Homo sapiens: one gene and its partner. The protein of the gene in region 1 purifies or fractionates together with the protein of each later gene. This does not show direct contact. Each region holds a gene or a part of one and is shown on either strand. Other genes may lie near its edges.

Evidence for each region. The genes of interacting proteins can lie anywhere in the genome.
Region 2: the proteins of ABCG8 (region 1) and TMEM184B purify together in Homo sapiens (affinity purification with mass spectrometry; one large-scale study listed by BioGRID and IntAct). This does not show direct contact.

Annotation. Positions count from the first base shown.
Region 1 is NC_000002.12:43,841,971-43,845,470, forward strand, and holds part of ABCG8 (ATP-binding cassette sub-family G member 8), read left to right. Parts: intron 1-1,816; exon of another isoform or gene 1,817-2,131; intron 2,132-2,458; exon of another isoform or gene 2,459-2,536; coding exon 2,537-2,638; intron 2,639-3,500. UniProt on the Homo sapiens protein: ABCG5 and ABCG8 form an obligate heterodimer that mediates Mg(2+)- and ATP-dependent sterol transport across the cell membrane.
Region 2 is NC_000022.11:38,221,011-38,224,510, reverse strand, and holds part of TMEM184B (transmembrane protein 184B), read left to right. Parts: exon of another isoform or gene 1-32; intron 33-1,848; coding exon of another isoform or gene 1,849-1,869; intron 1,870-2,764; coding exon of another isoform or gene 2,765-2,800; coding exon 2,801-3,042; 3' UTR 3,043-3,500. UniProt on the Homo sapiens protein: May activate the MAP kinase signaling pathway.

The DNA of each region.
Region 1 (3,500 bases):
AGATGCATGTTAGCCCACATGAGTCTCTTAGAAATGGATAAGATTTTTTTTTTTTTGACAGAGTCTCACGCTGTGGCCCAGGCTGGAGTGCAGAGGCACGATCTCGGCTCCCTGCACCTCCACCTGCCGGTTCAAGTGATTCTCCTGCCTCAACCTCTTGAGTAGGGTAGCTGGGACTATAGGGGTGTGCCACCATGCCCGGCAATTTTTTTTTGTATTTTTAGTAGAGACAGGGTTTCACTGTTTTGGCCAAGCTGGTCTTGAACTCCTGGCCTCAGGTGATCTGCCCTCCTCAGCTTCCCAAAGTGCTGGGATTACAGGCATGAGCCACTGCGCACAGCTGGCAATGGCTAAGATTTTTTGATGATTCAACAACAACAACAAAAATGGGACAATGAAGCAATGTGCACAGTGACAGCGGAGAGGGCGAGTGAGGGGCAAGGCCGAAGGGCTGATCTGCCAGGAGTCCAGCATCTGTCCGAGCTGCTTTCAATCTCCTCAGGAGCTTGGGGCACAGACCTTCTTACCTCCTCTCCCTCAACCTCCCTCCTGCTTGGGGGCTTTGGCAACTGGGGTTGAGGTGGGAATGGAACTCTGGAGTTCTACTCACTGGCTTGCTCTCTCAATTTGACAACATATTGTGAAATATCGTACACAAATCAGCTTAAAGAACTCTCATGTACACACCACCAATTACCAAAAGCTTTGAAGCTTGATCCCCGCACTCCTACTGTGTCCCCTTTCTCCTTTCATCTCTCCCCGCTCCCCAGAGATAACCCCTCTCCTGAATTAGGTGTTTATCTTTCCCATTTTTTTCTGTATAATTTTGGGTCTTTATGGTGATAATTCAAACATTAAGCAATGGAAGTCACTTTCGTCTGCTGTTTTTCATACTCTCCCAGAACTCTAAGGGTTCCCCACAGCACGCCTGCGGCATACTGTCACCGAATTTCTTTCCCTCCACCTCCACTGACCTGGAATGTTCTTTCCGAGAACTTCTGGCCCCCATCATTGCAGGGGTACTTTGACAAGAAGACTGCTGTATGTTATTTGTTATTTTCACGTAAGGCATAAGTCATGTTAGTTTCACCTACAGCATGTGCGTGCATTGTGTACATAGTGAAAATAAACCCTGGTCAGATGCTTGAGGTCAGCCTCCCTCTCTGCCTGGTCTGTCTCGCTCCATCGTAATCACCTGTCTCATCTGCCAAAATCTAAGCTTTTCAACGGCCTTTTCATTGTCACATCCCAAATTCCAAGCCTGAAGGGTGTTCTGGGCTCCCCATAAGTGTTTGTTGGGTGCATGGTTGATTGAAGGAATGTATAGTGTGAGAATGGTAGCTTGAGGAGGAAAGTCTATGGGAACTTGTTAATGAAAGTGTACTTGTTCCTGCCTGACAGAAATGTAAGAAAAATTGAATGCAGTAAAAAATGGAGGTCAGACGAGGTGGTTCACCCTTGTAATCACAGCACTTTGGGATGCTGAGGTGGGTGGATCACTTGAGCCCAGGAGTTTGAGACCAACATGGTGAAACCCTGTCTCTACAAAAAATACAAAAATTAGCTGGGTGTGGTGGGGAGGCTGAGGTGGGAGGATTGCTTGAGCCTGAGAGGTTGAGGATGCAGTGAGCTGTGATCATGTCACTGCACTCCATCCTGGGTGATAGAGCGAGACCCAATCCAAAGAAAAAGAAATGATGGGGGACTTCCTGTTGCTTCTTTGTTTGGGCCTCAATGGTTTAAATGATTGAATTGTCAAAATAGGAGGAATTGAGATCTGCAGATGGTTAATACCATTCAAAGGTATCAGCCGACACCATGAAACATTGATTTTTTAATGTACATTCAAATATACCACCACTTCGACAATAACAACAACATGATGATGATGATGAGAGGGACTTCCTCTCAAAGCTCCCAGCAGCATTTTCCATCACTTTGTTGCATGAACTCTTCATCAAAATCAGATATGAGGAGAAGTATGCCAGATGTTAGTGAGGACTAAGATGTTGGTTAGAATTTTTCTCAGGGTGGTATCTTCATGAATATTGGGCATTAACTCTCAACAGCTGCTTCCCTCTCACATGCTGCAAGTGTCATGTCTGTTTGGCCTCAGGAGATATTAAGCCAGCTGCAGGGAAGAGAAAGTTAAAGGCAAAGAGTTTGCCCACTCCAGTCAGGTCTTCTCAGAGCACAGAGGTTTTTTTATAGAACTCTCTCCGGTCCAGAGTCTGGGTCTCTTTACCAGAAGCTGCTTGGCTTCAGGCTCCACCAGCCTGAGGTTGAGGTTCTCTGGGAAGGTGCCCCGGGAGAAGCCCCAAACCTCTCTCTGAAGGGAAGAGGAGATGGGCCCTTGTCAGCACTCCTATTTTCCCAAAGCCCTGAGGTTCCACCTGTGCAATCCCATCTGTTGCCAATTTGAGATTTAACCACGTCGGCTCTAAGAAGTTGCTCTCACCTGTTGGTTTCCTTCTTGTCTTCTCCTATGTTCTCAGCAGCTTCTAAAGGAGCCCCTCATCTCTCCTGTCTCCCACAGGGCCTCCAGGATAGATTGTTCTCCTCTGAAAGTGACAACAGCCTGTACTTCACCTACAGTGGCCAGCCCAACACCCTGGAGGTCAGAGACCTCAACTACCAGGTAGAGGCACGCCTGGGTTCAAGGGGAGAGGAGCAGGCAGGGACAGCCAGGAAATTCCCCGGGTGGAAATAAAAGGGTGGGCCCAACTTGCAGGCCCTCTGCCCGCAAGGACAGAGTCCAGTCCACATTGATGCCTCACGTGTCAGGTGCAATAGGTGTCATCAATGGCATATATCAGAGCTGGAGGTTGAGAGGCTTGAAAAGAGAATAAAACTGTTGTATAAACATAAAACAAAATGCGTGAACCTATAGAAAAATGTCTCTGGGACTCTTTTTAAACTATATTTTGAAATAACTTTAGATTTTGGAAAAAATTGCAAAAATAACACAGTGTTTCCATATACCCATTGTCCAGCTTCCCCTAATGTTAACATCTTGCATACCCATAGTATAATTATGAACACTAAGAAATGAACAATGTACAATGCTATTAACTACAGACTTTATTCAGATTTCATTAGTTATATATATATGTGTGTGTGTGTGTGTGTATATATATATATATATATATAATTTTTTTTTTGTAAAATGTACTATCCCTGGAGCTTATAAAACATCCAGAGTGCAAAGACAATGACTGACCTTTCAGAGGCACCCAGGAACCCCCTGGTCAGATTCAAGGATCCATATTCCCACAGCTCCCCAGGGACCCAGATGGGACATGGTGGGGTCTGGGATGGTGAACTTCAGAGGCCTGAGTCTGGCTTCCTGTGGGTGTGAGTTGGGACAAGCCAATGAGCCTTTCTCTGCTCTGCCACTTACCAGCTGTGTGACCTTGAGCAAGTTGCTTAACTGCCCTGAGCCTCATCTGTAAAACAAGGATTCTGAGCATATCTATGTTATAGATTTGCAGTGAGGATTG
Region 2 (3,500 bases), on another chromosome or scaffold:
AAATTCCCTCGGGCTTCTAACTCCCAACACTGTGGTTACCATTTTGTCCTGTAATTCCCTCATCTCATATGCTATTTTTTAAAAAAAGGATACTTCTGGCCGGGCACGGTGGCTCACGCCTATAATCCCAGCACTTTGGGAGGCCGAGGCGGGTGGATCACAAGGTCAGGAGATCGAGACCATCCTGGCTAACACGGTGAAACCCTGTCTCTACTAAAAATACAAAAAATTAGCCGGGCGTGGTGGCGGGTGCTTGTAGTCCGAGCTACTCGGGAGGCTGAGGCAGGAGAATGGTGTGAATCCAGGAGGCGGAGCTTGCAGTGAGCGAGATTGTGCCATTGCACTCCAGCCTGGGTGACAGAGCAAGACTCCGTCTCAAAAAAAAGAAAGAAAGAAAAAAAAGAATACTTCTGAGAAACAGACTCGGATGGTAATAGGTTTTAACAGCTTTCTTTTACACCTGCGAATCTTCCTCCTTGCTAGAACAGTGGTAAGTAGCCCCAGTTGTACTGGAAAATGCCCTGGAGAGCTTTTGGAAGTGCTGATACCCAGCCCCACCCTCGGAGATCCCGCTGTAATGGGTCCGGGCTGGCAGGCTGGGTGTGCTGTGAGAGTTCTGTGCTTTAAGCACTCCCAGGGTGATGTGAAAGTGCTGCTGCCCGGGACGCTCCACTGGGCTGGAAGGGCTGCCTCTGGCCACTGGGCAGAAGGGGGTTGTCCTTGGAGGATGGGGAAGAGGAGGCTGGGAATGCCTGAGACTGATTGAGCCAGTAAAGGGGCAGGAGGGACTGGGGAGAGGGGAGCCTCCTTCTCTGACACATCCACCCAGGAGCCTGGCTGCTGCCAGCTGTCTGCCCGAGTGGCTGGAGGCAAGAAACCCACTTCCCCAGGGCCTACCTGCAGGCCCCACACAGGCTCCGTGGTGGGTGGTGTGGACTGTAGAAATGTCTGCCTGCAGCGGGGCTCCGCGGCCCACTTCCCGCCCCCCTTCCTCTGTGCCTTCCCTGGTGGGGGAAGACCTACTCTGTGCCCAAAGAGCAGGTGCACAAAGGCCAGGGGTTGCCACCTGGTGGCCCAGTTGGAAGGATCTAGCAAACACACACCCAGCATTGAGGGCAGTGTCCCTTGGACCTGGTGTGGTATACCCTGTGCCCGTGGGAACATCATCCTTGGGCCTGGGGCCTGGGGCCACCCCAAGGAGCAAGGGGGCCCATGGCAGAGAACCATTCCTGCACCACTGGGGCTCAGCAGAGGGGCTCTGCTGCCTGGCCTGAGCTGTCCCTCTAGACATACCCACGCCCGGCCGGGGAAGCTGCTTGCCCTCTTCTGCCTCCCCACTGGTCCTGAGCCCCCTGCTACCCTCTAACCCAGGCCCAGACCCTCAGCCCTCAGGATAGGCTTAGGTGCAGAGCTGGCTCAGCTGTGCGATTGTAACCCCTCCCTCTGAGCCTCCATGTCCTGGTCTGGGAAGTGTTGTGAGGTTTGTAAAATGTGAGGTGTGGATGTGGCCCCAGGCTAGCCGGGGAAGAAGTGGGGATGGGACGTCCTGACCTAGACGTGGAGGCGGAACTCAGTCGCCAGACGGATGTTTCCTGTTGGCGTGAACACCAGGGGAGGAGTCATCCCTAGGTGGATATCCCCCCTGCCAGGCCCCAGGAGGCACCTGGAGCTTCCTGGGTGCCCTGTGGGGCCTGGGGGGGTGGGGACAGGGTGTGTGGTGTGTCGTGCTGGTGGGCCTCGGTGGTGGGCACACATTGTTCACTCAGCTGTCTCTTGTCTTCTCTATTTCTTTGGCTTCTCTCCCCGCCCCCCTTGCCCTGCTTTTGCCCGGGGTTTGGCCGCGGGCAGTGCCAACATACGGCCCTTACGGTAGGTCCCGCTCTTGGTCTGCATGTCTGTCCTGCATGTCAGTTCTGGTCACTGTCACTGGCATGCGTCTCTCTGTAGCTCTTCTCCGTGTCCTCATCTCCTCCCCACCGGCACCCCCTGGGTGGGAGCGCCCAGAGCACCTGTCAAGGGCCACCCTCTGTAGAGCTTGCCTGCTTCCGTCCTCGTTTCTCGTTCTGGAATATGCCCCGCCTTCTTCTGGGGGCACAGTGCTGTTCATGGGATATCGGGGCATTTCACGATGTTTCCAAGAGTTCACAAGCTGAGTCAGGAATCCTGGGTTCCAGGGGTGGGCTCGTCCCTTACATCCAGGTGTCCTGGGCCACCTTTCTGCTCTGAGCCCCTGAGGATGGGGACAGTTGATTAGAGAGATGAGGAGGAAGCCCTCTTAGAGGGAGCCAGTGAGTCGCATCTGCTCCCCTGGGGGTGCAGGCCAGCCTGGTCCTGATCTCCAGAGTAGAGGGAGCACAGCACTTCCCCCGGTGGTGGGGGACGCGCCTGGCACCTGTGGAACCGGGCACCCCTGGCTTCCAGGCCCTCTGGCCCCACATGCCCCAACTTCAGTCAGTGCTGAGCCTGCTCTGGCCTCTCTGGGGCATTCTAGGCTCACTGCCCATAGCTTGCCAGTCTCCACCCTGGGTCCCTTCCCTGCAGCCAGCCCAGCTCCCAGTGGGGGTTTATGTCTGCTCCTCTTCACAGTCCAGCCTCCCCTTGGGGCTCCCCAGCCAAAGAAGTCCATTTTTTCCTGCCCCTTCTCATATCCTGGACCCCATTCTCTGTCCCAGAAGGGATGGTTGAAGGGCATAGCTTTGGGTTGGGGGGTGTCTGTCCCAGGATCACGGGCAGGGGCTGAGCCACCTCCCTCTCACCGTCCCAGCCTCCTCACCTGCCCCTCCCGCTCCCTGCCCGGCAGGCCGCTGTGCCCCCATGAAGAGCATCTCCAGCAGCCTCAAGGAGACCATGAACCCGCACGACATCGTGCAGGACGCCATCCACAACTTCTCACCTGCCTACCAGCAGTACACGCAGCAGTCCACCCTGGAGCCTGGGCCCACCTGGCGTGGTGGCGCCCACGGCCTCTCCCGCTCCCACAGCCTCAGTGGCGCCCGCGACAACGAGAAGACTCTCCTGCTCAGCTCTGATGATGAATTCTAGGTGCGGGCTGCAGTGGCGGAAGTGCTGGCGCCATAGCCACGGTCAGGCTGTGCCCCACCTCCAGCCTCACCACCAGGCCAGGAGGCAGCTGGCACAGTGCTCACGCCGCCTTTATTTATTGGACCAGAAACACTCACATGTCACTTCCAGAGGAACGGGGGACAGCCAGGCTCGCCCATGGGCCTTCAGGAATATTTATACATGGCCCAGCCTGCACTGCCCGGGCGAGGGCAGAGGACACTGGGAGCAAGGCTTATGCCCCTGCTGCCCGTCCTGTGCTGGGGGCATGCTGGGACCAGCCGCACCCAGGCCCCAATGCTTGTGTGTGGACCAGCGGCTGCAGCCTTCTAGCCCCTCCTCCCCGCGAGACTCTCAGGCTGAGGTCGGCAAGCCGTGGCTCCCCCACACACCGTGCAATACCCTGTCTGACCTGGGCTCTTCCCGCCTGCATCCCTCCC